Regions from separate parts of the Homo sapiens genome. Here regions 2, 3, 4 and 5 are each linked to region 1. Evidence: fine-mapped expression QTL. A gene starts in region 1. Each other region holds a variant in brackets. All regions are shown on one strand. Distances are from middle to middle.

Evidence for each region. PIP is the estimated chance that this variant, and not a neighbour inherited with it, causes the effect.
Region 2: its variant is fine-mapped to the expression of ZNF304 in whole blood (INTERVAL, PIP above 0.99).
Region 3: its variant is fine-mapped to the expression of ZNF304 in cerebellum (GTEx, PIP 0.90).
Region 4: its variant is fine-mapped to the expression of ZNF304 in whole blood (INTERVAL, PIP 0.95).
Region 5: its variant is fine-mapped to the expression of ZNF304 in amygdala (GTEx, PIP 0.93).

The regions. Positions count from the first base shown.
Region 1 is chr19:57,348,234-57,353,860 of GRCh38, forward strand. It overlaps ZNF304 (zinc finger protein 304), which reads left to right and starts at 3,038. Exons shown (of 3, transcript NM_020657.4): 1 at 3,038-3,464; 2 at 5,492-5,618. The coding sequence starts at 3,432. RefSeq lists enhancers at 2,214-3,073, 3,031-3,120, 3,074-3,932, 3,271-3,340.
Region 2 is chr19:57,170,256-57,176,519 of GRCh38, forward strand. It overlaps LOC124904780 (a long non-coding RNA gene), which reads left to right and starts at 1,989. Exons shown (of 2, transcript XR_007067355.1): 1 at 1,989-2,041. It also overlaps the pseudogene LOC100132009. RefSeq lists a silencer at 1,576-1,625 and an enhancer at 1,957-2,016. The variant A/ATTCTTTT (reference allele first, on the strand shown) is at 3,437.
Region 3 is chr19:57,097,582-57,103,845 of GRCh38, forward strand. No RefSeq gene overlaps it. Among named protein-coding and RNA genes, the nearest start is that of USP29, 19 kb to the right of the region's middle. The variant G/C (reference allele first, on the strand shown) is at 3,281.
Region 4 is chr19:57,442,027-57,448,290 of GRCh38, forward strand. It overlaps ZNF749 (zinc finger protein 749), which reads left to right. Exons shown (of 3, transcript NM_001023561.4): 3 at 1,265-5,075. The coding sequence ends at 3,459. Among named protein-coding and RNA genes, the nearest start is that of ZNF749, 9.8 kb to the left of the region's middle. The variant T/G (reference allele first, on the strand shown) is at 3,434.
Region 5 is chr19:58,022,515-58,028,778 of GRCh38, forward strand. It overlaps the pseudogene VN2R19P. Among named protein-coding and RNA genes, the nearest start is that of ZSCAN1, 8.4 kb to the right of the region's middle. The variant G/A (reference allele first, on the strand shown) is at 2,599.

The sequences.
Region 1 (5,627 bases):
TCTGTGCAGCCTTGGCTCAAGTCATCATCCTGGCTCAGCCTCCTGAGTAGCTGGGATTACAGGCTTGTGCCACCACACCCTGCTATTACTTTTTTTTTTTTTTTTTTTTTTTTTTTGGTAGAGATGGGGCCTTGTTACGTGGCTCAGGCTGATCTATTAATAGAATTCCTGACCTCAAGCAGTTCTCTTGCTTCAGCCTCCCACATTGCAGGAATTATAGGCATGAGCCTCTGTGCCTGGCCTTTTGGAAATTTTTAACACATCAAAACTTACTAAGTGCTAATTTAAGAATTTATTCCATACTCATTTCATGAGATAGCTGATATATTTGGGTTTATATACATCCTCTGGTTGTGTGTGTGCTTTTCTTTGCCTTACTTATTGTGTGTACTTTATTTTTTGTAATGTTTTCTTTACATTTACATTTTCTTTAAATTTGTAAGATATATACTCTGATTCAGTTAATGTTTAAGCTTTAAAACAGTTATTTAATACATTATAGAGTTAATGTATTTGCTCTCCTCAAGAAATATAAGAAACTTATATGTTAGTTAATTTGCCCATATGAGTTTATATACTATTGAGGATATGCATGGTAATTCCACCATTCTGTTTCCAGAAGTATTAATATTTTATTTTATTTTTTATTTTAATTTTTATTTATTTATTTATTTTGAGATGCAGTCTCACTCTGTTGCCTAGGCTGGAGTGCAGTGGCACAGTCTTGGCTCACTGCAACCTCCGCTTCCCGGGTTCAAGTGATTCTCCTGCCTCAGCCTTCTGAGTAGCTGGGATTACAGGCGCCCACCACCACGCCTGGCTAATTTTTGTATTTTTAGTAGAAACAGGGTTTCACCATGTTGGACAGGCTGGTCTCGAACTCCTGAGCTCGTGATCCGCCTGCCTTGGCCTCCCAAAGTGCTGAGATTACAGGCGTGAGCCACCGCGCCCAACAGTATTAATATTTTATACAGATAATGAGTGGTCTCATTAATCCATAGATGCACTCCTCTCTCAGATCCTCATTTCTTCTATCATCACAGACCATCACCTGGGATCACTTTCCTTCAACCTTAAGAAGGATCTTAAAAGTGTTATTTTATGCCAGTTATTTTTATCCATTAAATTTCTCATTTTGGGCTTCAAATAGTCTTATTTCAGTTTTTCTTAGCCAGTGCATTTGTCGTGCATAGAAATCTGCTGGCAGTTATATCTGTAACTGACTCCGTATGTTATTCCATGTGTTCCTGACACCTAAATTTATATTGGCTTTGAGTGGAGACAGATAATTTATATTATACATATATATAATTATGTATGTGTGTATATAAACTACATGTGTATATATATATAAATGCTGTGTGTATGTGTGTATATATATTTTTTCTCAAAGATATGAATTATTTCTATGTCATCTCATAAAATAAACCAGGTTATAAAATTTTAACTACAGTGACTCTTAAGTGGACAGTGGAGTTAAAAATTATGAAGAGCAATTAGTCTTGATAGTTCTGTGTTTTGAATCATACAGCCTATAAGAATGTGTCTTCTGGACGATAGACCTACCTGTAGTTTATGAAACCCTCTTGCATGTGATTTTTTTCAATTAAATGAGTCTATTGATATATTGGTGTGCTTTTGTGCAAAAATTATAACCATTAGGGGCTCCCACCTGTAATCCCAGCACTTTGGAAGACTGAGGCAGTTGGATCACCTGAGGTCAGGAGTTCGAGACCAGCCTGACCAACACGGAGAAACCCCATCTCTACTAAAAATACAAAATTAGCCGGGCATGGTGGCGGATGCTTGTAATCCCAGCTACTCGGGAGGCCGAGGCAGGAGAATCGCTTGAACCTGGGAGGGAGAGGTTGCAGTGAGCTGAGATCGTGCCATTGCACTTAAGCCTGGGCAACAAGAGTGAAACTCTGTCTCAAAAAAAAATTATAACTATTATCTATGATGCTATTTGATGAGTGAGGGAATAATTGTACTTTTTTCTTTTTTTTTCAAAATCACACTGATCCTGAAAAGGTGGATCTTTGATTTATCTTCCTAAAGCAGTGTATGTGAGAACCTTGTGTTGAGGAAGACTGATAACAGCTTGTATGTATTTAGCACGATGTGCCAGGCCTGGTGTTAAGTACTTTTTACCTCACTTCCCATATTCCTAATGAGGTTGGTTGTAGTGTTTTTCATCTTACTGATTTTTTTTTGTTTGTTTTTGTTTTGTTTTGTTTTTGGCTAATGACTTTAAAAGACCTCCAGTTCTTGAACTTCAGCTAGGGTCCCATCCCCAGAGTTTATCAGAAGGTATAGGTTGGGTCCAAGAATTCACAGGTTTTTTAAGTTCATAGTGAAGCTGATGCTGTAAAACTACATATCAAATTGGGAAGCAATGAATTAGAAGAGGCTCATGTTTTCGTCATGTTACATGTAAGTTCCTCCTTCACTTTTCGCCATGAATAAAAGTTCCCTGTGGCCTCACCAGAAGCAGATACGGGCACCATGCTTCCTGTACAGCCAGCAGAAAGGTAGCTAATTACATCTCTTTTCTTTATATGTTAGAAAAATTAGAAGGACATTCAATGTTTTACAAAAAGGCCCACAAACGAAATACAGACAACGTTCAATTTATTAATACGTTTCAATCCCCAAATCTGAGAGAGGTGAAGCAGGTTTCCCAGGGCCTCAGAAGCAGGATTGAAGAATGGGTCCCTTGCTGGCGACTTCAGTGGCGTGGCATTGTCCCAGGTGGCCATGGAAATCAGGGTGCATACCCTTTAAAAGCAGCTGTGGCCTCCGAGATATCGTTTTCCCAGTCTTTTCTCCCCCTCCCTGCACGACGCCTCTTGGCAGACATCCGGGAGAACCCGAAAGGCGCTCGTTGCCTGGTTGGATGCAGGGTACAAACTACGTTACCCAGAAATCTGTGCCCAGCTCATTGTTAGCCGGCGTGCAGCCAATGACAGCCCAGAAACTGGGCGTTTCCTGCTGCTCTGGGCTGCAGGGGCGAGACTTCTGGCGTCGCCGTCGTGACGTATTTTTCCTATGCCCGGTCCGTGCATTCTGGTTGTGAAGGCTGAGTTCTAGAGATCGGGTCGGCTTTCTACGCGGCTCTCGTGGAACCTAGCAAAGAAAGACAGTGAAGACTGCAGGACCTTCCTTCGCGCTTTTGTTACAATCCATGACCCCTGTCGTGGGACGGGCGGCCTCTCGCGGAGGTGTCTGCCGGGGCTGGGCTCTTACCGAGGCCTCCACACACGTCCTCTTGTCCTTGTCTCCCCCAGAAGCAGCCGCCTTAGTCTTGTGAGCGTTTTTACACCGGGTAGATTGAGACTTGGAGTGCTACACTCAGCCCGAGGGCGTCCAGCGCGGTGGAGGCGTGGGGTTTCGGCTGAGCCCACAGGGCACAGACTGTTCATCCGCTTCTCATGGCAGCGGCGGTGCTGATGGACCGGGTTCAGGTGAGTGGGGGCATCCCTCAAGCGCACCCCGGCCTGGTTGGTGTGTCCTGGGATGTTCGCTCTCATCGCGCACTTCAGGGTGCTCACTCCGTCGCATTATGTGGAGGGGTTCCGCTCCCCTCATCAGTGGCATAAGGTGTGGAACGGACTCGAAGGCGCAGGGGCAGTTCGTACAAATGCATGCATGGAGAGGAGAATGAGTTTGGGGAGTTCCGGGAACTCTCTGTGCCTGGTGAGAACAGGGACTAGGGGGTCAGAGGTAGGCCTGGAATGGCCGCCCGAGGAGCTGGTCCTCTCTTCTGAGGGTGCTGGGAGTCATGCAAGGTTTGGTACAGAGAAGGGAGGTCCTCTGACGCAGTTCTTAAAAGGCTCCCTCTGGCTGCAGAGTGGGTAGACTAGGGATTATAGGGTAGACGGGGAGATCAAGATGAAGTCTACTGAAATAGTCCAGGTGAGCGTTGATGGTCTGGGCCAGAGTGGTGGCAGCAGAGGTTAGAGAATGTATGGGTTTTGGGTTTTGTATGTATTTTATAAGGAAGGCTGACCAGATTCTCTGATGAGACATAGTGATGATATCCTGGGATTCTTCACATGACTGTCTTCACTTGAGACAGGGGGCAGTGAATGGAGGTCATTTCTAGTTTAGTGTCCTGAATCCAGGCCATGAGTTGTATGGAGTTATGTGGAGAAGTCCCCACCTGGCGACCAATGGGATGAGTACTGCAAAAGTATATCAGACCTAGGAACAGGTACGCTCAAATGCTTGTAGGATTGAGTTTGGAGCGCTCAGGGAATCTCAGGTCTTAATTACCTTTGTTGGAAACAGGTATCAGAGGAAGGAGTTAGGCAGGAATGGCTGGCCGAGGTGTCTTGAGTGTGGTAAAAGTCGTGGGAGATTTGGAGCAGAGGAGGGAGATGATCTGACTCAGATTTTAACATGCTCTCTCTGGCTTTCAGGTTGAGAACAGACTGTGAGCATGAGGGAGCAGCTACTGCAGTAGTGTTGATGGTGTCTGGTCTAGAGGTGTGGCTGTGGAGGTGAGAGAAGTTGGTAAATTTTCTGTTTTTTAAAGTAGGGTGATTGGATTTTTTGATGCGAAAGGTGAAAGAGAGGAGAGTCGTGGATGACCCTAAGGTTGGTTTGTTTTTGCTGTAGCTGGTAAAATTATGAAAATGCCATCAACTGAGATAGAGAAGTTGGCAGCAGGTATGATTTTTAGTGGTTATATCAGGAGTTAGGCTTTGGTCATGTTTAGGTTAAGAGGTCTCAGTTGTCATCTTAGTTGAGGCCTCAGGAAAACACACAGGTTTTTAGTTCTGGGGAAGGGTTCTGTTGAAGAAGTTGAAAAAAATGGTGGCCAGTGTGTGGAGTGGGATGGGGTATCTTCAAATCATGGTGGTAATGCTGTTATTCAGTAAGAAAGTTGAAACTGGACACTGAGAGAAAACTGGGTCTGTTGCTTAGGCACCTGGACGGCAGTGGTGGATAGTGTGAAGACGCGAGCGCTTCCTGGACACTGCTTGCAGAGTGGCATGGGGGATGAGGGATGTCATGGAGGTGCATATGGCATGGGCCAGTGGCGGTGGGGATCTCAGATGTGAGGAAGGTGTAGTCCAAAGAGTAATGAGCACGTTGGGAGGAGTGTGAACTGATGCCCTTAAGACTCTAGTATTGGCAGCTCATGGGAGAAGATGGAGCTGAAGTTTGGTTGTGTTTAGAGGCATCGTCTGGACAACACCAGGAGAACTGGTTGGTAGGCGAGTATTTGGGACCCTTCATGCCAGACCCAGAGTTGAGACAGCATCTGTCTGCACACTTGCCTGGTTCTGCTCTGGGCTGGACACAGTGGTGAGAGGGACATGAGGAGAGAGCAGACACTAGTGGTGCCAAGGTCTGTTATCTCCTCTTAGTTGGGAGGCTGGGGAGGCGAGGGACTAGAGAGTGGGTGTGTGAGTGTGTAGACTGGGGAGGAGGGGGTTCTGGGGAGAGATGCTGACTGTGGACTCAGCTGTACTTATCATGGCAGAGTTGTGTGACCTTCGAGGATGTGTTCGTGTACTTCTCTCGGGAGGAGTGGGAACTCCTTGAGGAGGCACAGAGATTCCTGTACCGTGATGTGATGCTGGAGAACTTTGCACTTGTGGCTACACTAGGTAAGTCTG
Region 2 (6,264 bases), 180 kb before region 1:
GCTTTATTGAGGTACAGTTGACAAAAAAGATACATATTTTAAATATACGATTTGAATTTTGATATACACATATAATATGATATGGTTACCATAATCAAATCAAGCTGATTGATGTATTAACCACCTCAAATTATACCCTTTGTGTGTGTGTGTGTGTGCGGTCAGAACACTTTTTAAAAAAAATATCCTTTTCTCCCCCATGCAGAAGAACACTTAAGGTCTATCCTTGTCGCAAAAAATAAAAATCTATCCTCTTAGCAAATGTCAAGTAGTATTGTTTTTTTCATTTCTGATCATCCAATTTAAAATTTTTTTTTCTAATTTGTTAACTATGTCACATAATGTCACAATGTACATGTCAAATAACGTCACTATGTACCTTAAATCCCCAAAACTTATCTTGCAAAACTGAAAATTTGTACTTCTTGACCAACATTTCCCCATTTCCCCTTCACTCAAGCCCCCGGCAACCACCATTTTACTCTCTGCTTCTATTTTTGATCCAACCTCACTGTTTGTGTCCACGCTCCTTAATTTTCTTGGTCATGAGACCACGAGCTTAGATAACACCTTAGACAATGAGACCAGTGACCCTGACCTGTTTCAGTTTAGTTATTTAAAATATTTTTCTTTCTTTTTTAAATTGTATTTATTTATTTATTTGTTTTGAGAGGGTCTTGCTCTGTCGCCCAGGCTGGAATGCAGTGGTGCAACCATGGCTCACTGCAGCCTCCGACTCCTGGGCTCAAGCGATCTTACCCCCTAGGGCTCCAAAAGTGCTCTGACAGTAAATGCATGAGCTACCATGCCCAGCCATCAAATTTTCAATCATTATAAATCTTAGAGCTGGAAATAATATCTCATTGTTTTATTTTTAATTTGAGCGCTAGCGTGCTTGAACACTTTTAATCAAATGTATTTGCCATATTTTATTTTTCTTTTATTAGCTTTCAGATTCTTTGCTTCTTTCTTAGGTAGAACATTTCTTTGAGACTTAAATATTATGCTGCATTTGTCCTATGTCCTGCAAGTGTTTTCTTAATTCAGTATTTTAAAATAATATTTTGTTTTTATGTTTTTTGTATCTTTATAGCATTCTTCTAAATTGGATCTATGTTTATTTTAATTGTCTAGTCAAAGTACTGACAAGGAGGAGTGAACTTCCTGAAAACGGAGAACAAGATGTGATGCCTTTTAGTAAATGTTTACCAAAAGACACAGGATTCCATTTCCAATTCCATATCGAGAACCTTTAAAATTGTACATAAAAATGCAGGTGAAGTCGTGGAGAAGGGAGGCCAACAGTGCACACAGGTAGTGCCTCTGGGGAAGAATCAGAAGTCATCCTGCATCCTAAATTCCTGACCTGACTTTTCTGCAGGGCGAGTATCTGACCTGTGCTACACCATCAGCAACACAAAGAAAACTTGATGAGCTTTTATTTCCTTTTATTTGTATGTTTCACTCCAGTTTTCAATTCCGTGCCCTCAAAAGCCCGGATATCATCACCGGTACCTCTTTTAAGCTTCACCTCTCTGTGCGGCTCCGCAAGTATGTTGGTCTCCCTGAGAGAGTGGGGCCTGCAACCTGCTGGGCGCAGGCGCCTTGAGCTGCCACGTCTGCCCTTTTACCGGCTTGGGTGCAGGCAAGGGAAATGCGTCCCCGGGCCGGGGGGCGCGAGCGGGGGTCCGGGGCCGCGAGCTGGGGTCCGGGGAGCGCGAGCGGGGGTCCGGGGGGCGGGGGCCGCGGGCCGCGAGGGGGGCGGGGGCCGCGAGGGGGCGGGGCGTGCGAGGGGGCGGGGGCGTGCGAGGGGGCGGGGGCGCGCGAGGGGGCGGGGCGCGCGAGGGGGCGGGGCGCGCGAGGGGGCGGGGCGCGCGAGGGGGCGGGGCGCGCGAGGGGGCGGGGCGCGCGAGGGGGCGGGGCGCGCGAGGGGGCGGGGCGCGCGAGGGGGCGGGGCGCGCGAGGGGGCGGGGCGCGCCGGGCTCGTCCTCTCCGCGGCGCTCAGTGGCAGCAGGGAGGGCCGGTGAGATGCCAGAGCAAGGTAGGGTCCTGTATTTGGGGACCGCTGACGTTTGGGTCCCCCTCCCGCGGCTGTTAGCGCTGCGTGGCCCGAGACCTGCGGTCGGGCGGGGATTAAGGCTGCTTTCCGGAGGGCCCCGGCCGCGTGGTCGCCCTGCCAGAGCGGTTGATGTCAGGCAGTGCTGGGAGGCGTTGCTCTCCGGGTTCGCTTCTCTCCTGTTGTCCTAACTCTGCATCTCTCCCGGGTGAATCACAGAGCTGTAAACTAAAAATCAAATTCTAAGCTCCCAGCCAACTGAATGGACCCCTCCTCTCAGCTAAGAGCATGGCAAACTTAACCGGAAACACTAGTTCGGCCGCGATAGGAAGGAGATGGGACATGCCTCATTTTACCCTCCTCTCTTTGAAATTCAGGCACAGGTCGGGCGCGGTGGCTCATGCCTGTAATCCCAGCACTTTCGGAGGCCGAGGTGGGTGGATCACATGAGGTCAGGAGTTCGAGACCAGCCTGGCCAACATGGAGAAACCCCGTCTCTACTAAAAATACAAAAATTAGCCAGGCGTGGTGGCGGGCGCCTGTATCCCAACTACTCAGGAGGCTGAGGCAGGAGAATTGCTTTAACCCGGGAGGTGGAGGTTGCAGTGAGCCGAGATCGCGCCACTGCCACTCCAGCCTCAGCACCAGAGCAAGACTACGCCTCAAAAAAAAAAAAAAAAAAAAAAGGAATTCAGGCACAGCTGACCAGTATTAACATTAAAACAATTTTTTTTTAGTATCTTCATGCTAAAGGGGTAAGTAGAAATTGCATGTAGCCTCCCATCAGTTTATTCCAAATAGCAAACATTTACCAAGCCCTGAGTTATTAACTACGTATTTTCTTTTTGTAAACCTTACAATTGAGCAGGCAAGTAATAACATTATCTCCATATTTTTAATGTGAGGAAACTGAGGCCCAGGAAGACGTGTAATTTGCCCAATATCAGGTATTCAGTATATTGGAGATTTGAAGGACAAGTTATTTATTTTGAAAAATGTATACCTTTTCCAAAGTTCCAACAATAATTCAATGAACACATTTATTTTGCCCCAGAATTGCCAATGATGTTATGTCCTATAAGGAGGCACCTAAGTATACAGTTTGTCCATTTGGGAGATTTGGATTTTGACTACTTGGTTAAGATGGTATCTACTAGATCTCTCCACTCTTTCTTCTTTGTAATTAATAAGTAATCTGTGGGTCAATTCTTTGCAATGTCTGAATAATATTAAGTCCCCCCACTTCAGCCTCTAGTTTTAGCCTCTGTTGATGATTCTTCCCTGAATCTGTGATCACTGCTTGTGGGGATTCTATTTCTATTACTTCTTTACATTTTATACTTATAAGTTGACACTCCTGTAAAGAACTTTACCCATCCC[A/ATTCTTTT]TTCTTTTTTCTTTTCTTTTTTTTTGTTTTTGAGAAAGAGTCTCACTCTTGTCATCCGGGCTGGAGTGCAGTTGCGCGATCTAGGCTCACTGCAGCCTCCGCCTCCCGATTTCAAGTGATTCTCCTGTCTCAGCTTCCCAAGTAGCTGAGACTACAGGCGTGTGCTACCACACCCAGCTAATTTTGTTTTTTTTGGGTTTTTTTTTTGTTTTTGTTTTTGTTTTTTTTTAGTAGAGATGGGGTTTCACCATGTTGGCCAGGCTGGTCTCAAACTACTGACCTCAGGTGATCCACCCCCCTCGGCCTCCCAAAGTGTTGAGATTACAGGCGTGAGCCACCGCGCCCGGCCCACCTCAGGTGATCCACCCCTCTCAGCCTCCCAAAGTGTTGAGATTACAGGCGTGAGCCACCACGCCGGGCCCACCTCAGGTGATCCACCCCCCTCGGCCTCCCAAAGTGTTGAGATTACAGGCGTGAGCCACCGCGCCCGGCCCACCTCAGGTGATCCACCCCTCTCAGCCTCCCAAAGTGCTGAGATTACAGGCGTGAGCCACCGCGCCCGGCCCATCCCATCCCATCCATTTTAAGTTAGTTAATTATTTTAGAAGCCACATGGAGTGGATGATTTTTATCTGCGGCATTATAATCCATTTATCTCATTGTATTGGTGCTCACACTACCCAGCATTAGCCTCTCCAAACTCAAGTAGGCTTGACTTTCTTATTTCTATCACAGAGCTCCTGAAACCCTTGGAATTTCCTGTGTGTTGAAATGTCTTTTGTTATTTTTAATGACTTTTTGATCACATCTCAGTTTATACCAATGAGATGGCTTAGGGTGGAGACCCTAGACAGCCTCAAGATGAAGCTGGTCACCAGAAAGATTAGAGAGTTGGAACTTTCAGTCCTACCCACCAACCTCTGTGAAGTGGAAAGGGTGGGATGGCTTGACATGAAGCTCTATAAAAACTCTTGGACAACAAGATTTTAGCTTTCCAGATTGCTGAACACATTCAGTGTTCCTGGAGAGGGCATGGAAGCTCCACACCTCTTCTCACATACCTTGCCCTGTGTATCTTTTCTGACTGTTTGTTTGTATCCTTTGTGATATCTTTTATTATAAAACAGTAAACATAAGCAAAGTGTTTCCCCGAGTTCTATGAGCCATTCTAGAAATGAGTTCTAGGGGGTTGTGGGAACCCCAATTCTAATGTAGTTGGTCAAAAGCACAGGCCACAACCAGGTGATTGTGACTGGCATCTGAAGTGAAGGGCAATTCTGTGGGACTTAGTCCTCAACCTATGGGATGTGACACTTCCTTCAAGTAGATAGTGTCAGATTTGAATTATAGGACACCTACTGGTGTCTCCTGGAAAACTGGGATGGATGAAAAAACCTCCACTCATTTGGTCACACAAATGTTCTGTTTTGAGTGAGTTGAAAGAAAAGAACAGTTAGTTTTTTTGCTTTAGATGTGGTGTCAGAAATGGGATGTTGAATGATTGTGTAAGAGTGGGAGCACTTGGCAGAGAAGTCAAAGATGGCGGCTGTAGCTGCTGTTCGCTGGCTGGGGCTCTGCAGCAGGCTTGACCAGCCACTGACGGGTCAGCCAGCAGGTCTATGTGAACAAGCACACAGCTGAGATTTTATTCTGGAAGTGCAACCCTCTCAAATATTGAAGGAACTGATATAACAGGGATTGAAGAAGTAGTAATTCCAAAAAAGAAAACTTGGGATAAAGTAGCCGTTCTTCAGGCTCTTGCATCCACAGTAAACAGGGTTCCCACGGCTGTACCTTGCGTGTTTCAAGATAATCCTTACCTCATACCAACATCCTCTTCAGAATCTCGTTCATTTTTACTGGCAAAGAAATCCGGGGAGAATACGGCCAAGTTCATTATTAATTCATACTCCAAATATTTTCAGAAAGACATAGCTGAACCTCATACACTGTGTTTAATGCCTGAGTACTTTGAACCTCAGATCAAAGACATAAGTGAAGCCACTCTCAAGGAATGAATCAAGCTCAGAAAAGTCAAAGTCTCTGTGGACATGTTTGATGAGCTTTTGCAAGCAGGAACCACTGTGTCTCTTGTAACAACATATAGTCTCTTGGATTTATTGTGTTACTATGGTGACCAGGAGCCCTCAACTGATTATCAGTTTCAACAAATTGAACAGTCAGAAGAATTGGAAGAGGAAAATAATAAGAGGTCTAGGAGGAAAGCTGGTGATCAATTTGGAGTTACCTGGTGAGCACAAAACAACGCTGAGAGAATGTTTTCTCTAATGCCAGGGAAAAATGCACATTCCTATTGCACAGTGATCCGAGGAATGGTGAAGCATCAAGCTTATGAGCAGGCATTAAACCTGTACACTGAGTTACTAAACAACAGACTCTGTGCTGATGTATACACATTTAATGCAGTGATTGAAGCAACAGTATTGGTGATAAATGAGAAATTTGAGGAAGAATGGAATAATATACTGGAGCTGCTAAGACAAATGGTTGCACAGAAGGTGAAACCAAATCTACAGACTTTTAATACCATTCTGAAATGTCTCCGAAGATTTTATGTACTTGCAAGATTGCCAGCCTTACAGATTCTATGTGAAATGAAAGCCATCAGACTAGAACCCTCGCTTGCAACATATCACCATATTATTCAGCTGTTTTATCAGCCTGGAAACCCTTCAAAGGGATCATCTTTCATCATCTATGATATAATGAATGAATTAATGGGAAAGAGATTTTCCCCCAAAGGACCTGGATGATGATAAGCTTTTTCAGTCAGCCATGAGAGTATCTTCATCTCTCAGAAATCTAGA
Region 3 (6,264 bases), 250 kb before region 1:
AGAGGATCGCTTGAGCCTGCGAGGTGGAGGTTGCAGTGAGCCGTGATCGCACCACTGCACTCCAGCCTGGATGACAGAGTGAGACGCTGTCTCAAAAAAAAAAAAAGCCATATTGATAAAATTATACCAAGATATATTTAAATACAGAATTAACTGTGTATCTATACTTTATATACATGTATGAATATATTTGAACATTAAATTATAATTATGAACATAAATTTGCATCATATATTCTACTTATGTCTCCCTGGGCACATGTCTGTATGTGTATCTGTGGACACACGTCCATGAAGAAATTGGATGGGATGAACTCGGGAGTAAGTTAACTCTGTCTGCGTCCTGTGCACCTGATGCAGCAATAAATACTCCATCAAAGGCATTGCATTTCCCAAAAGCCCGTGAGGCAGGCGTGATTCTAGTGTCCATTTTACAGAGAAGAGTACTGAGGTGTGGAGAGACTAAGTCGGCCAGCAGTGAACACCCTCAGCCACTGCTCGGACAGCTCTCGCTCACCTCCCTGCATCTCCGGCTCCAGACGCCATGGTCTCCATCACTCTCCCTCACTCGGGATCTCATGCCGGCTCCCGGCTTGGATCACAGACGCTGATGGCTCAAAAACGTGTGTCTGGGTTAGAGAATCCACCTGTCTCCCTTAGCTCTGCACTGGGGTTGCCCAATTTAATAAATAAAAATACAAATTGCCTGGTTAAATATGGATTTCAGATAAACAATAAAAAAGAATCAACTTTTATTTTAGAATCGACTTAGATTTGGCGAAAAGTTGCAAAGAGAATAGAAAGTTTTCCTTGTTCCTGCACCCAGCTTCCCCTGTTAGTAGCGTCTTACACGAGTATGATTTATCTCAATATTAGTGAACTGGCCAGGCACGGTGGCTAACACCTGTAATACCAGCACTTTTGGAGGCTGAGGCAGGTGGATCACTTGAGGTCAGGAGTTCGAGACCAGCCTGGCCAACATGGTGAAACCCCATCTCTACTAAAAAATACAAAAATTAGCCAGGCGTGGTGGTGAGCACCTGTAGTCACAGCTACTCAGGAGACTGAGGCATGATAATTGCTTGAACCCAAGAGGCAGAGGTTGCAGTGAGCCAAGATTTTGCCACTGCACTCCAGACTCGGCAACGAGTGAGACCCTGACTCTAAAAAACCGTAAAAATAAAAATAAATAAATAATTGCCAAGTGTGGTGGCTCATGCCTATCTATAATCCCAGCATTTTGGGAGGCAGAGGTGAGCAGATCACTTGAGCCCAGGAGTTCAAGACCAGCCTGGGCATCATGGCAAAAACCCTTCTCTACAAAAAATACAAAAATTAGCTGGGTGTGGTGGTGCAGGCCTGTAGTCCCAGCTACTCGGGAGGCTGAGGCAGGAGGATTGCTCAAGCTGGGGAGGCTGCAGTGAGCCAAGACAGCGCCACTGTACTCCAGCCTGAGCCACAGAGTGAGACCCTGTCTCAATAGAAAAACAAATACATAATAAATACATAAAACGCCCATGGCAGGGACACACACGCTGGTTTGGGTTGGAGCCAGCCCGTAAACCCAAATTTGGGGGCCCGGGCTCTCGGCTGCTGCAGCACTGACTACCGTTAAGGTACAATAAAACTGACACATGGGCAGTGAGGGGAATTTGCTCTCCTGCCTCCCTCCCTAAGTTCATCTGCTGAGAAAAATGCTTTGAGATAAACCTGGAGCCACAGCTCTCTGCACAGTCAGATCGCAGGAACGCGGCCTAGCTGCTTCAGCCACGTTCTCGCGGCGCCACCTGGTGGCCATGGACCGCCATCGCCGCTGGACGTCAGGGCCGCCAGGCCCAGCGAGATGTCACCTCCTCTGAGGAGCCTTCCAGGATCGCACCCGGCACGCGCTCCACGCCTCGTTGTCTGTTCTTCGGAGCACCGACCATGATCACAAATCAGCTCGCTCGCTGTGTTTCCTGCCGGGTCGCTACCGCCATGATCCGCACGTAGTGGTCAAGGCTGAGGTTGTATGAATGTGGACGTTATAACCCTGGCTCCCTCTCCCTCCCTATGCTGGGCTCCCCTCGATCCCCAGGCGGTGGGGTGCCCCTGGTTTTTCCTTTTTAAAATTATAAGTCTGGCCGGACGCGGTGGCTCAGGACCGTAATCCCAGCACTTTGGGAAGTCGAGGGAGGGTGTATCACTTGAGGCCAGGAGTTCAAGACCAGCCTGGCCAACATGGTGAAACACCATCTCTACTAAAAATACAAAAATTTGCCGGGCATGGTGGTGTGCGCCTGTAACCCCAGCTACTTGGGAGGCTGAGGCAGGAGAATCGCTTGAACCTGGGAAGCAGAGGTTGCAGTGAGCCGAGATCTCCAGCCTGGGTGGCAGAGTGAGCCTTCGTCTCAAAAAATAAAAAATAAAAAAAAGGTTAAATCAATTTAAATGTCAATGTCCACAGGAGCTACAGATGGTACCAATAGCTCCCAGCTGGGGCTCGTGTATCATTGGTCAGGGCTTCATCAGGATTGGCTACTGCCCCACCCTTGTTAAACATTTTTAATATCTTCCTTGTCTACCAGGGTCAGGCACCTCAGGTAGATGAATGAAGGATGGGGGGGATGGGGGAGGGAGATGGAAGAGGGAAGGGAAGCAGAGGGAGGAGGAGTGAGTGGGCAGCCCTGATCGGAGGTCCCTCCCCATCCCATCTAAAGGGGCTCCCTGGCCGGGCGCAGTGGCTCACACCTGCCATCCCAGCACTTTGGGAGGCTGAGGCGGGTGGATCACCTGAGGTCAGGAGTTCAAGACCATCCTGGCCAACATGGTGAAACCCCGTCTCTACTAAAAATACAAAAAGTAGCCGGGTGTAGTGGTTCATGCCTGTAATCCCAGCTACTCTGGAGGCTGAGGCTGGAGAGTCGCTTGAACCTGGGAGGCGGAGGTTGCGGTGAGCCAAGATCGCCCCACTGCACTCCAGCCTGGGCGACAGAGCGAGATTCCGTCTCAAAAAAATAAAAAATTAATAAAATAAAAATAAATAAATAAATAAATAAAGGGGCTCCCTGCTCTTCTGCTCCAACCTGTGGCTGCCGCATAGGAACATGGGTCACAAAACCCAGAAATCTGGATTCCTTTAAGTGAAATCTTCCAAATTTTATGTTTAAGAAGGTCATGTATTTATTCCTTCCTAAAGACCATGCTGACCAAATCAAATGAGTCTGTGGATAAGTGTGTCCAGGCTTCAGACTACTCCCTTTTGGAGCCTGTGGTGTAAAGGGAACAGCTTAAAGTCCCTC[G/C]CCCCAGTCAACAGGGGAATTTAATGTCTTGGGTTCCCTGGCAGAACTTTTCTGTTTTTTTTTTTTTTCTCTTTATCTAACACTTCCATGTGTCTTACTGAAAGCCAGCTGCAGAGTTAGAGCAGCGTTTGGCAGAATCAAATATGGACTAGCGCTTGCTTCTGTACGGCCCTCAGGTTAAGCATGGATTTTATATGTTCAAATTGTTGAAAATAAATCAGGCCAGGCACAGTGGCTCACACCTGTAATCCTAACTCTTTGGGAGGTCGAGGCAGGAGAATCGTTTGAGCCCAGGAGTTCAAGACCAGCCTAGGCAACATAGTGAGACCCCCCACATCTCTACAAAAAGTTAAAAAATTGGCCGGGTGCGGTGGCTTAGGCGTGTAATCCCAGCACTTTGGGAGGCCGGGGTGGGCGGATCACCTGAGGTCAGGAGTTCAAGACCAGCCTGGCCAACATGATGAAACCCCGTCTCTACTAAAAATACAAAAGTTAGCTGGGCGTGGTGGTGAATGCCTATAATCCCAGCTACTTTCGGGAGGCTGAGGCAGGAGAATAGCTTGAACTCGGGAGGCAGAGTTTGCAGTGAGCCAAGATGGCGCCATTGCACTCCAGCCCGGGCAACAAGAGCAAAACTATGTCTTAAAAAAAAAAAAAGTTAAAAAATTAACTGGGTGTGTTGGCACTTACCTATGGTCCCAGCTACTCAGGAAGCTGAGGTGAGAGGGTCATTTAAGCCCAGGAGATCAAGGCTTCAGTGAGCTATGGTTGCACCACTGCATTCCAGCCTGGGTGACAGAACAAGACCCTTTCTTTATTCAAAAAAGAGAGAAAAGAAAAAAGAGAGAGAAAGAGAACAGAAAAAAGAAGAGAAACAAAGAAAAGAAAATGATATTTCATAATATGTGCAAATTATATGAAATTCAAATCTTGGCTTCCATAAACAAAGCTGTGTTGGCCCATGGTCACGCCTTCATTGACATCACCTGGTGGCAGCTTTGTGTTACATCAGCAGAGTTAAGTAGACTGTGTGGCCTGCAAAGCCTCAAATACTTGCTGTTCTGGGCCAGGCGCGGTGGCTCACACCTGTAATCCCAGCACTTTGGGAGGCCAAGGTGGGCGGATCACCCGAGGTCAGGGGTTCGAGACCAGCCCAGCCAACATGCTGAAACCCTGTCTCTACTAAAAATACAAAAAAAAAAATTAGCTGGGTATGCTGGCAGGTGCCTATAATCCCAGCTACTCAGGAGGCTGAGGCAAGAGAATCACTTGAACCTGGGAGGTGGAGGTTGCAGTGAGCCGAGATCACACCACTGCACTCCAGTCTGGGCAACAGAGCGAGACTCCATCTAAAAAAGAACAAAAAAAATTGCTATTCTGGCCCTTTCCTGGGGGCATTTAGAGAAAATATTTACCCACCCTTCTAGGTACTTTGCGTGCATTAACTTATTTCATCCTCACAGAGCATCTATGATGAAGGCGCTGCTATTATCCCATTTCAAAGGTGAGAAAAGTGAGTACGAAAGGTGAAGTCCATGGAGACACAGCTGTGTGAGGCAGAGCCAGGATTTAGGCTCAGGAAGCCTGAACCTAGATTCTAGGGTGTTAACTGCTACATGAGGCTGCCTCTCTTTCTAAGCATTTTCACTTGTGTTTCTCTCCACATGCTATGTTCTACCATAAATTGGCTTCCTTGAATGGGAGGGCCACACTGAATCCCACTGTCTCTACAACTGTGACATCATGTAATGCTGACTCCTTTAGCTTTATTAAACTCAGGTTCTAACCTTAGCCACAGGCTCTCCTTCTGCCAAGCTGTCAGCTAAATCAAACCATGCTCTCTTATCCCCAGCCTGCTCCTGCCTTCATCTCCCTCGTTTTCTTTTTAAAGATTAATTATTTTTAGGCTGGGCACAGTGGCTTACGCCTGCAATCCCAACACTTTGGGAGGCCAAGGCAGGCAGATCACCTGAGGTCAGGAGTTCGAGACCAGCTTGGCCAATGTGGTGAAACCGCATCTCTACTAAAAATACAAAAATTAGCCGGGCATGCGGACAGGTGCCTGTAATCCCAGCTACTCGGGAGGCTGAGGCAAGAGAATCGCTTGAACTGAGGAGGTGGAGGTTGCGGTGAGCCGAATTCATGCCATTGCACTCCAGCGCCTGGGTGACAAGAATGAGACTCCATCTCAAAAAAAAAAAACCTGTCATATTGGATTAGGGTCTACCCTAATGACCTTGTCTTGCCTTAATTACTCGTCTAAAGACCCTATTACCAAATACAGTCACATTTCTAGGTGCTGGGAGTTAAGACTTCAACATGCATTTGGGGGGACAAAATTGAGCCTATAACAAGCTAATTACTTAATGTTTTCTGGGAGATGCCTCAACCTGTCCCAAACGAAGCTTATGACATCTTCCCCTCACCTGCTCACCTTCCAGAGTTGCCCATCTCCACCAATGGCACCATTATCCACCTGGTTACACTGACCAGAAGCCAATGGCGCCCTTCTCATTACCCCTCTCATCGGTCACCACGTCCTGCCGTTTGACGCTGATCAACCTGCTCATTTCCCCCCATCTCCTCTGCCGCCACTGAAAACCAACCCACCACCGTCATCTCCTGCACTGCGGAAAGTTCTAAATATCCCCATCCCGGACCCAAACTGCCTCTCCTCACCCAGGAATCATTTGATGTGGTCAGAGCGAGATTCAAACTCCTCCCAACTCCTGAAACTGTCAAAGCTGGACTTGAATACGGAGCAGAGCCGGCGTCCTGTTGGAGTGCTTGTGAGCTCACCAGTGCTCCCTCCCTCCACCGTCACTCTAAATCAGGACTACCCAGCCTGGCACCCTCAGCATTTGGGGTTGGAGGATTCTTTGCTGTTGGGGGTGGGGGAAGGGGTTCTGTCCTGTGCATTGTAGGATCTTAAGCGGCATCTCTGGTCTCACCAACTAGAGGCCAGGAGCAGCCCCTCACCCAGC
Region 4 (6,264 bases), 94 kb after region 1:
CTACTCTGGTGTCTTGTGCTGGGTGCTGTTTTTTTGCTCTTTTCCATGACAACTCTGTCTTTCCCACACCAGATTGTGAGTGCTACGTCCTGTCCTCTCCTGGTTTCCTGGCAAATGTGATAAGGCAGCCAGAGCTGGGCTGTGTATACTGTACCACCTCCCCTTAAGCAGCCCCAGCTTCTGTTGCTCTGAAACTTTACAAGATAAGGCTCGGAAGTCAGAAATCTTCAGGTTTCTTTAAGATATCCTAATGGCGGTGCCTGTCCCTGGTTTGATTACTCTGTCCAAATGTGTGAAACCTCTGTCCAAGGGTTTCCCTGTTCCCCTTGCTGACATACTTGGAGACAGTGTCTGTGCTAGGAATTTCAGGCACCTCCCTGGTCACCACTTGTGAGGATTGTGAAGTTATTTCTGCAGGACGCTCTACTGGGTGTTCTGGTAGCTTTAGAATGCAGCATGTCCTGGGTTTATTGCTCTGTGTACATGCTGTCCCCTCCCTTTCCCTGCCTTTCCCGTAGCTGGACTTATGCCGCAGCTAGATAGTTGCTCACCTTGAGCAAGGGGGAGGTCTCTGGGTGCCTGGCAGAGTGGATAGTCCTCTATTAATGGCAAGAGACACTCAGAAGGACTTGGCCCTGGTGGGTGAAAGCTGGGAAAGGATGTGATATCAAGGCTGGGTTCAAATCACATTGAGAACTTACCTTGTGACCACTATTGTTTGATGCAGGGCCACTGGCCACTCGTCACTCTTCCTTTCCTTCCCTGTTGTTATTTTTACTCTGACTTCTGACCCCTGGCTTCCACCTCTGACCCCTCCTCTCCAGCCTTCATCTCTCCACCATTCTCTTCCACCTCTCCCTTTGCAGTGCTGTCTAATGTATGACCTGTACTTTAGGTGTTATGAGGTCTGCGTGTATCCTTCAGTAGTCCATGAATACTCGCTCTCACACAATCAGATCTCTCTGGATCTGGACACAACCGTCATGGCCTGTTGAAAGCCATTTATAGAGGAGTGAGTTGGAGACCCCACCTGCCCTCCCTGCATGGTACTTCTCCCTTGTGTCCTTACCACCAGGATTCCCCCACTACACACACTTCACAGGCCCACCTCTGAACACTGGGCCTTCCTCTCACTGGCCTTATTTCCTTGCCTGTGACCAGTCCTGTGCCCTCATTTGTGGGTGTGTCTCACAGACATTTGTGATGGGGCTGTCTCCTCCCTCCGGAGTTCACGTGCACTTCACCAGCATTTCTGTTCTTACAGGTTGTTGGCATGGAGCCAAGGATGAGGAGGTACCTTCCAAGCAGTGTGTTTCTGTAAGAGTGTTACAGGTCACAATTCCAAAGCCAGCTTTGTCCACCCTGAAGGCCCAGCCCTGCAAGATGTGTAGCTCAATTCTGAAGGACATTCTGCACCTGGCTGAGCACGATGGAACACACCCTGAGCAAGGGCTGTACACATGTGCAGCAGAGCATGACCTGCACCAAAAGGAGCAGATTAGAGAGAAGCTCACCAGAAGTGATGAGTGGAGGCCTTCATTTGTGAACCACAGTGCTCACGTGGGAGAGAGGAACTTCACATGCACGCAGGGTGGCAAGGATTTTACTGCCAGCTCAGACCTTCTCCAGCAACAGGTCTTAAACAGTGGGTGGAAGCTGTACAGGGATACCCAGGATGGGGAAGCCTTTCAAGGTGAACAGAATGATTTCAACTCCAGCCAAGGTGGGAAAGACTTTTGCCACCAACATGGGCTGTTTGAGCACCAAAAAACCCATAATGGGGAGAGGCCTTATGAGTTCAGTGAATGTGGGGAATTGTTTAGGTACAACTCCAACCTTATTAAATATCAGCAAAATCATGCTGGAGAAAGGCCTTATGAGGGCACTGAATATGGAAAGACCTTTATTAGAAAGTCCAACCTAGTTCAGCACCAGAAAATTCACAGTGAAGGCTTTCTTTCAAAAAGGTCTGACCCCATTGAACATCAGGAGATTCTCAGTAGACCAACACCTTATGAATGCACCCAGTGTGGGAAGGCCTTTCTTACACAGGCTCATCTGGTTGGTCACCAGAAAACCCATACTGGAGAACAGCCCTATGAATGCAACAAGTGTGGGAAGTTTTTTATGTATAACTCCAAACTCATCAGACATCAGAAAGTTCACACTGGGGAGAGGCGTTACGAGTGCAGTGAATGTGGGAAATTGTTTATGGACAGCTTCACACTCGGTAGACATCAGAGAGTTCATACTGGAGAAAGGCCTTTTGAATGCAGCATATGTGGAAAATTCTTTAGTCACCGCTCCACACTCAATATGCACCAGAGAGTTCATGCTGGCAAAAGGCTTTATAAGTGTAGCGAATGTGGGAAAGCCTTTAGCCTCAAACATAATGTTGTTCAGCATCTGAAAATTCATACTGGAGAACGGCCTTATGAGTGCACTGAATGTGAGAAGGCCTTTGTTAGAAAGTCCCACCTAGTTCAGCACCAGAAAATCCACACTGATGCATTTTCAAAAAGGTCTGACCTCATTCAACACAAGAGGATTGACATTAGGCCAAGGCCTTATACATGCAGTGAATGTGGGAAGGCCTTCCTTACACAGGCTCATCTGGTTGGTCACCAGAAAATCCATACTGGAGAACGGCCTTATGAATGCACTCAATGTGCGAAGGCCTTTGTTAGAAAGTCCCACCTAGTTCAGCATGAGAAAATCCACACTGATGCATTTTCAAAAAGGTCTGACCTCATTCAACACAAGAGGATTGACCTCAGGCCAAGGCCTTATGTGTGTAGTGAATGTGGGAAGGCCTTCCTTACACAGGCTCATCTAGATGGTCACCAGAAAATCCAGACTGGAGAACGGCGTTATGAATGCAATGAATGTGGGAAATTCTTTTTGGACAGCTACAAACTTGTTATTCATCAGAGAATTCACACTGGAGAAAAGCCTTATAAATGCAGCAAATGTGGGAAATTCTTTAGATATCGCTGTACACTGAGTAGACATCAGAAAGTTCACACTGGAGAAAGACCTTATGAGTGTAGTGAATGTGGGAAATTTTTTAGAGATAGCTACAAACTCATTATTCATCAGAGAGTTCATACTGGAGAAAAGCCTTATGAATGCAGCAACTGTGGGAAGTTTCTTAGATACCGCTCTACATTCATTAAACATCATAAAGTTTGCACTGGGGAGAAGCCTCATGAGTGCAGTAAATGTAGGGAATTGTTTAGGACTAAATCGAGCCTTATTATACATCAGCAGTCTCACACTGGAGAAAGTCCTTTTAAGTTAAGGGAATGTGGGAAAGACTTCAACAAATGTAATACTGGTCAGCGCCAAAAAACTCACACTGGAGAAAGGTCTTATGAGTGTGGTGAATCCAGCAAAGTGTTTAAATACAACTCCAGCCTCATTAAACATCAGA[T/G]AATTCATACTGGAAAAAGGCCTTAGTGGAGTGAATGCAGGAAAGTCACCAAAACTGTCACCTCATTCAGCACCAAAAGGTTCACATCGGACCAAGAACCTATTAATATATGTAAATCTAATGTTGAAAGAGTTCAGATGGAAATCTGCGAGGATTTCCTGCTGGGAACTACATTAAAAACATTTATGTCCAGGCGTGGTGGCTCACGCCTGTAATCCCAGCACTTTGGGAGGCAGAGGTGGGTGGATCACCTGAGGTCAGGAGTTTGAGACCAGCCGGGCCAACATGGTGAAGCCCCATCTCTACTAAAAATACAAAAATTAGCTGGGCATGGTGGCAGGTGCCTGTAATCCCAGCTATTCAGGGGACTGAGGCAGGGAGCATCACTTGAACCTGGGAGGCGGAGGTTGCAGTGAACTGAGATTGTTCCATTGCACTCCAGCCTGGGTGACAGGGCGAGACTCTGTCTCAAAAAGAAAAAAATTATAATTGTGGCAAATTACAGGTAACTTAAAATCTACCATCTTAACCCATATTTAACTGTACTGTTCAGTAGTGTTAAGTCATTCGCATTGTTGTCAATTAATATCCAGAAGTTTTTTCAACTTAATGAAACTAAAACATTATACCCTTTAAACCAGGGGTCCACAACCCCCAGGCTGCAAACTGGTACCAGTCTGTGGCCTGTTAGGAACCGGGCCAGCATCACTACCTGAGCTTCACCTCCTGTCAGATGAGCAGCATTAGATTCTCATAGCAGCCTGAGCCCTATTGTGAACTGTGCCTGTGAGGGATCTAGGTTGTGTGCTCCTTATGAGAATCTAACTAATACCTGATGATCTGAGGTGGGACAGTTTTATTCTGAAACTGTCTGCCCCCTCCTCTGTCCCTGATGCGTGGAAAAATTGGCTTCCATGAAACCAGTCCCTGGTGCCAAAGAGGTTGGGGACCGCTGCTTTAAACTACTCCTCTTCCTCATTCCCTACGCCAACCAGCCCCTGACAATACTACTGTATGAATTTTACTATAAATATCTCATATGAGGAAACTTAAGTTTTAGTCTTTTGTGACTTATTTTGAGGCTTATTTCCCTAAATGTCTTCAAGGTTTATCCATGTTGTAGCATAGCTTATGATTTTCATCTTTTTTAAAGGCCGAATAAAATCCCATTGTAGTCATGTGTCGCCTAACAAGAGGACTGTGTTCTGAGTAATCATCTTAAGGTGATTTTGTCATTGTGTGAACAAAGAGTGTACTTACACAAACCTGAAGGGCACAGCCTATTACGCACCTAGGCTATATGATATGGTCCATTGCGCCTCAGATATAAACCTTAACAGCATGTTACAGTATTGAATATTGTAGGTAATTGAAACACAATGATAAGTAAATGTGTATCTAAACATATCTAAGTTTCCAAAAGGTACTGTAAAAATGTATGAAAAATGGTAAAAACTTTATAGGGCACTAACATGAACGAAGCTTGCGGGACCCCTCTGGTTGAGTCAGGGAGTGAGTTGTGAGTGAATGTGAAGCTCTAGGACATTACTGTACCCTATTGTAGATGTTATAAACATTGTACACTTAGGCTACTCTAAATTAATTTTTTCTTTAGTAATAAATTAACCTTAGTCTACTGTAACGTTTTTACTTCATGAACTTTTAAAATTTTAAAAAGCTTTTTGACTCTTTTGTAATAATAGCTTAAAACACAAACACATTATACAGCCTGTATAGAAGTACTCCTTTATATTCTATAAACTTTTTCTATTTAATTTTTTAACTTCGTAAAAAATAAGTTAAAAATGAAGACACAGACACACACATTAGTCAAGGCCTACAGAGGGTGAGGATCATTAATATCACTGTCTTTTGCCTCCACATCTTGTCCCACTAGAAGGTTTTCAGGCTCAATAACAGGGAGTTGTTATCTCCTATGATAACAATATTCTGGAATATTTTCTGAAGCCTTGCCTCACACTTTTTTTTTTTTTTTTTTTTTGAGACAGAGTCTCGCACTGTTGCCAGGCTGGAGTGCAGTGGCACAATCTCGGCTCACTGCAACCTCTGCCTCCTGGGTTCAAGTGATTCTCCTGCTTCAGCCTCCCGAGTAGCTAGGATTACAGGTGCCTGCCACCACGCTCAGCTAATTTTTTGTATTTTTAGTAGAGATGGCGTTTCACTATGTTGGCCAGGCTGGTCTCGAACTCCTGACCTCATGATTCGCCCGCCTCAGCCTCCCAGAGTGCTGGGATGACAGGCATGAGCCACCGCGCCTGGCTTTATTTTTTTTTTGAGACAGAGTCTTGCACTGTTGCCTGGGCTGGTGTGTAGTGGTGTGATCTTGGCTCACTGCAACCTCCGCCTCCCGGGTACAAGCGATTCTCCTGCCTCAGCCTCCCGAGTAGCTAGGATTACAGGTGCCCACCAGCATGCCCGGCTAATTTTTTGTATTTTTAGTAGAGATGGGGTTTCACTATGTTGGCCAGGCTGGTCTCCAACTCCTGACCTCATGATCCGCCCATCTCGGCCTCCCAAAGTGCTGGGATTACAGGCATGAGCCACAGCGCCCGGCCTGTGCTCTTTATATGACTGGCAGACCAGTAGGTTTGTTTACACCAGTGTCACCACACACACTTGAGTAATGGGATTGAGTTACAGTGGCTGTGGTGGCACTAGGTGATAGGAGTTGTTTAGCTCTGTTATAATACGGGATTACTGTTATACATGTGGTCCATGGTAGACAGAAATGTGTGGCATATGACTGTGGTATATGTATATGCCACTTTTCCTGTATTCTTTCTTCAGTGTACATTTGGGTTGCTTCCACT
Region 5 (6,264 bases), 670 kb after region 1:
CCTGGGCAACACAGGGAGAGTTTTGTTTTGTTTTGTTTTGTTTTGTTTTAAAAAAGGCCAGGCGCAGTGTCTCACGCCTGTAATTCCAGCACTTTGGGAGGCTGAGGCGGGTGGATCACCTGAGGTCAGGAGTTTGAGACCAGACTGGGCAACATAGTGAAACCCCATCTCTACTAAAAATACAAAAATTAGCCGGTCATGGCGGCGGGCACCTGTGGTCCCAGCTACTTGGGAGGCTGAGACAGGAGAATTGCTTGAACCCAGGGGGCAGAGGTTGCAGTGAGCCGAGATCGCACCACCGCACTCCAGCCTGGGCGACAAGAGTCAGACTTCGTCTCAAAAAAATTCAAAAAGGAAAAAAAAAATTGAGTCTCTAATCCTTTAAATGTGCTTGAATTAAAAGGAAAGAAAAGAAAGTCTACATATAGAAACTTCTAGTTCAGAAGCATTTTATGTAAGAATCCAAGTGGGAAGTAATCAAGGTGAATTCTTGGAAAAAAATCAGCCTGGCTTGATACTTTGGGGTTAAAAGCACCTAGAATAGCTATGCGGTTATTTGCAGAGGTTCTATAGAAATCAACTCTCCTTTTTATCAGGATAGGACTGGACTAAATTGATCGTACGATCAAGCCCATACCTGAAGTGTCACACCTCAGAATAAACTCCCCAATACATGACAACCCACCCTGAAGGAGTAAGGGGTGAAGGGGTGAGCTTTCTTTGTGGCCCCAACATTCACACCGCCCCAGGAAAACCCTTCCAACCTGTTCTGTGATTTACAGGGCCCCCTGCTTCACAGGTAGGAAGGCAGGCCTCTCCCCCAGCAGGCCAGCAAACTTTGCAAATTTAAGGCGTTCAAGGGCAGAGGAATCCTGTAAACCCAAATTTACAGGTTTCTCAGTGGAACATGAATCTATTAAATTGGACTCGTCATACAATGCTGGTGGGAATGTAAAATGGTGCGCTGCTTTGGAAAACACTCCAGCAGCTCCTCAGATAGTTAATCATAGCATGAACATTTGGCCCAGAAATTCTACCCATACAACCAAGAGAATTGAAAACACACTGAACATACACACAAAAACGGATACATAAATGTTCATAGCAGCCCTATTCACAGTAGGCCCAAAATGGAAACAGTTCAAATATACATCAACTAATAAATGGATACACACGACATGCTCTATTCATACAACGGATTTTTAAGACAGGGTCTTGCACTGTTGCCCAAGCTGGATTATAGTGGTACGATTATAGCTCACTGCACCCTTGACCCACCCCCCCCGCCCCCCGACTCAAGTGATTCTCCTGCCTCAGCCTTCTGAGTACCCAGGACTACAGCTGCATGCCACTAATTTTTTTTTTTTTTTCCTGTAGAAATGGAGTCTCCCTATGTTGCCCAGGCTGGTCTTGACCTCTTGACATCAAGCAATCCTCCCACCTTGGCCTCCCACAGGGCCACTATACCCAGCCTATGATGGAAAATTAATCAATAGAAGGGAACGACGCTCTGACACAGGCTGCAACGTGGATGAACCTTGAAAATATATTTAGTGAGAAAAGCCAGTCACAAAGGACCACACAGCGTATGATTCCGTTTATAGGAAGTATCCAGAAAAAGCAAATCTGTACAGACAAAACATACATTAGTGGTTGCCGGCAGGTGGAGCTGATGGAAACTGCTGGCTAAAGGGGTTGGGGTTTCCTTGTGGGGTGATGAAAATGTTCTCAAATTGGCTGTGGGGATGGCTACACAACTCGAACATACCAAAAGCCATGAGTGAGTTACGCGGTATGTGGATTATATCTCAGGCCGGAGGACTGCTTGAGCCTAGCAAATCGAGGCTGCAGTGAGCCGTGATCATGCCACTGCACTCCAGCCTGAGCGACAGAGACCCCATCACTAAAAAAATTAAAATGCCCCAGCACAGTGGCTCACACCTGTGATCCCAGCACTTCGTGGGGCCGAGGTGGGCAGATCACCTAAGGACAGAAGTTCCAGACCATCCTGGCCAACGTGGGGAAACACCGTCTCTACTAAAAATACAAAAATTAGCCGGGAGGTGGTAGGGGGCGCCTGGAAACCCAGCTACTCGGGAGGCTGAGGCAGGAGAATCGCTTGAACCCGGGAGGCGGAGATTGCAGTGAGCTGAGATCGTGCCACTGCACTCCACCCTGGGAAACAGCAAGACTCCATCTCAATACACCCACATACATACATAAAATAAACAGAAAAAAAAAGTTGCCTCTAGACATAGCTACTATTATGGGAATGACACCCGAGGGCCTGAGAGTCAGGAGGCCCCAGCGGGGCGGGGCCGTGTGGAGGCTGGCGGCACAAGCCCTATGGCCTGGACTCAAAACCCAGCTTCAGCGCCCCAGTGCTGGGTGAGCTGCAACGTGTCACTGCTAGTTCCCTCAATCTCAGTGTCCTGGTGAATGCAGCAGCGATCACCATTCTCTTACAGAGAGGTCATGGTGAGGGGGAGGATGGCGTCAGGCTGTAGGGCATTGGCGGGGAGCCAGGACCCTCCGTGGTAGGGCCTCAGCGTCACCCCCATTGTGGCCAATACCACAGCAAATATTAGGGGAGGGTAC[G/A]GCTCTGAGTACTTACCTGGAGAAACCTGTAGAGTCCCAGGAGCCTGGCCATTGGCATAGACAACGCCAAGCATGTTTCTCCAAAGCAGCTCCGAGAGCGCTGGGCCCAGACGTGTAGCTGGGGATGGGCTCCTCCTGCCCGGTGAGAAAGCTCATGGTCTCATGGAGTGCTGCGTGCACGAAGTCCCCCTGTGTCCAGAATTGGTTCCTTCCAGTGGGTTCTTGGTGTAGCTGACTTCAACAATGAAGCTGCGGACCCTCACGGCGAGTGTTACTACAGTTCTTATCTGGAGTTGTTCATTCCTCCCGTTGGATTCGTGGTCTTGCTGGCTTCAGAAGTGAAGCCACAGACCTTCGCAGTTAGTATAACAGCTCATAAAGGTAGTATAGACCCACAGAAAGAGCATCAGCAGGATTTATCGCAAACAGCAAAACAACAAACTTCCACAAACTGGAAGGAAAGCCCAACAGACTGCCACCGCCGGCTCGGGTGGCCTGCTTTTATTCCCTTATCTGGCCCCACCCACATCCTGCTGATTGGTCCATTTTACAGAGCACTGATTGGTCCGTTTTACAGAGAGCTGATTGGTCCGTTTTGATTGAGTGCTGATTGGTGCGTTTACAAACCTTTAGCTAGACACAGAGTGCTGATTGGTGCACTTACAATCCTTTAGCTAGACAGAAAAGTTCTCCAAGTCACCACCCTACCTGGAAGCCCAACCGGTTTCACCTCTCACCCAGAGTTCCGGATGGAGAAGCCCAGCCTGAGGCTGGGGAGCAGGTGGGCGTCCCTGTTGATCTCCTCCATGGCAAATGTGAATCCTTGGGCTTCCCAGTAGCCCCAGGTGGAAACGCTGAGGGAAGGAGAAGCCCAGGCTTACCGCATGCTGTAGCTGCAGAGGCTATGGCTTATGCACACTCAAAGGGGATGAGGCCACAAGTCTCCACAAGCGCTTGTGCACGATGTAGCCTATACATCAGACTTGACATAACTACATCTTAGCAAAAGACTCCATTTTATATTTCATAGGACACTCTGCCATCAAGGATAGGATGTTCTGTTTATTAAACAACAAAAAAAAAAGACTGCACCTAACCAGGTAAGGACACAAGCACACTCTTCCACTGCCAGTTCTCACCAGGGGACTACTAGGTGACTATAAAAGATTAGGCCTTCTCGGGCACGGTGGCTCATGCCTGTAATCCCAGCACTTTGGGAGGTCAAGGCAGGAGGATCACTTGAGGTCAGGAGTTCAAAATCAGCCTGGCCAATGTAGTGAAACCCCATCTCTAATAAAAATACAAAAAAATTAGCCGGGCATGGTGGTGTGCACCTGTAATCCCAGCTACTCGGGAGGCTGAGGCAGGAGAATCACAAGAACCCGGGAGGCAGAGGTTGCAGTGAGCCGAGATCGTGCCATTGCACACCAGCCCGGGTGACAGAGCAAAACTCTTGTCTTAAAAAATAATAATAAAAGAAAAAGAAAATTAGGCCTTCAGGAGCTCAAAATGGCTGTTTTAACTGACACTGTTTTGCAGTCACTCATGATAACTCAGCCTCTGTGGCCAAAGGCTCTGCCACCTCAAAGACTTCCTTGCAGGATGGCAGACCACCGACCTCACAGACCACCCACCCACCGCCTGGCCCAGACCAGGATGCCTTTTGTCTTCTTCGCTGCCTCTGAACTGGTTCCTTAACTCTTTCTCCTATCTCTTTTTTCTCTTGATGTTAAATGTCACTTTGTTGGTTGTGGAATGTTTAACCTATAACATTTCTATATTAAGTATACTATTATGTATGGTTTGCAATATTAACTGCTTGTGGAGTGGCTTGAGCCTCCGTGCCTGTGGCTCTGACTACCAAGTGAATGAGAAGCACAAGGGATAATTGGCTCCTTGGGAACTCCATGTAGCTCATGGCTTTTGTGATTGAAATAACATCAGTAGGCCGGGTGCGGTGGCTCACGCCTGTAATCCCAGCACTTTAGGAGGCCAAGACGGGCGGATCACCTGAGGTCAGGAGTTCGAGACAAGCCTGGCCAACATGGTGAAACCCCGTCTCTACTAAAAATTCAAAAATTAGCTGAGCATGGTGGAGGGTACCTGTAATCCCAGCTACTCAGAAGGCTGAGGCAAGAGAATCGCTTGAACCTGGGAGGTGGAGGTTGCAGTGAGCAAAGATCACACCATCGCACTCCAGCCTGGGGGCAAGAGCGAGACTTTGTCTCAAAAAAAGGAAAAGAAAAGAAAAGAAATAACATCAGTAAACACTTGACATTGCGGAAAGACACGAACGTGTGGACCTGGTTATCTCTGACCTTGCACTGATCATGACATGTGCATAGCAAAATGGGCAGAACAGCCAAAAAGGGGTGGGGGGCGGGGGGTAGGACATGTTGGTCAAAGGGCTCCAAGTTTCAGTTAGACAAGGAGGAATAGGTTTCCAGATCTATTGCACAGCATGGAAACTGTAGTTATCAATAATTAATGTATATTTCAAAACTGCAAAAAGATCATATCTTAAATGTTCACATTGCAAAAAATGATAAGGATGTGAGGATATGGATATGTTGATTAGCCCAATTTAATCATTCCATAATGTATACATATATCAAGACATCATATTGTACCCCATAAATATATACAATTATTATTCATTGATTAGAAAAAATAACCTGGCAACATCAAGTGATGGCAAGTGGAGTGATTGGAAGTCTTGTGTATGTCTGGTGAGAATGCAGAATGAAATGGTTGCTTTGGAAAACATTGTGGCAATGTTTAAATAAAGGTAAACAGGCCAGCCATGGTGGCTCTAGCCTGTAGTCCCAGCACTTTGGGAGGCTGAGGCGGGAGGATTGTTTGAACCCAGGAGTTAGAAACCAGCCTAGGTCACAACGTGAGACTCTGTCTCTATAGAAAATGAAAAGTAAATAAAAAATTAAAAAATTAGCCGAGTCTGGTCTCATGCATCTGTGGTGCCAGCTACTCAGAAGCTGAGGTGGGAGGATCACTTGAGCTGGGAGGTCAAGGCTGTAGTGAGCTATGATTGAGCCACTGCACTCCAGCCTGGGCAGCAGAGCCAGACCCTGTCTCCAAAAATAAAATAAAGTAAAATGATAAACATATTCATTTTTTAAAAAAGAAAAAAATCACCGGAGGGACTATGTGAAGAACTGTCCGCAGAGACAGTTTGGGAACCTGGGACAGAAATGGGTGATGGCACACACAGGTAAAGAGAAATTCCCTGGGCTGATCAACTCATGAAGAGATTTGTTCATTCCACAAACACTTGTTCATTCAACAAACACACTTACCTGTGCCTGGCGCTGCTCTAAGCGCCAAGGGTTGGCGGTGGACAAGAGAGGGGAGAATCTCTGCCTCACCTGTGCAGTCGCTGCAGCACAATGAGGAGACAAGCAACCCATGCTTCAGACACAGACAGAAAGCAAGAAGGAAAAACGGAGTGAGGTGCTAAGGCAGGGCCGGTGAGACAGGCTGACCAGCATCCAGACAGACAGGATGAGTCCCGGCCATCCAGGAGGGATTCTGAGAATCAGCTGCTGCCTGAGGCTTTAGAAGGACACTCCTGAAGGTGCCCAGCCTTCAGGGGCTCTCCACCAAACACCCTGGTAGCTGCTTACCTTGAAGACTCCAAGCCAGCTGGTG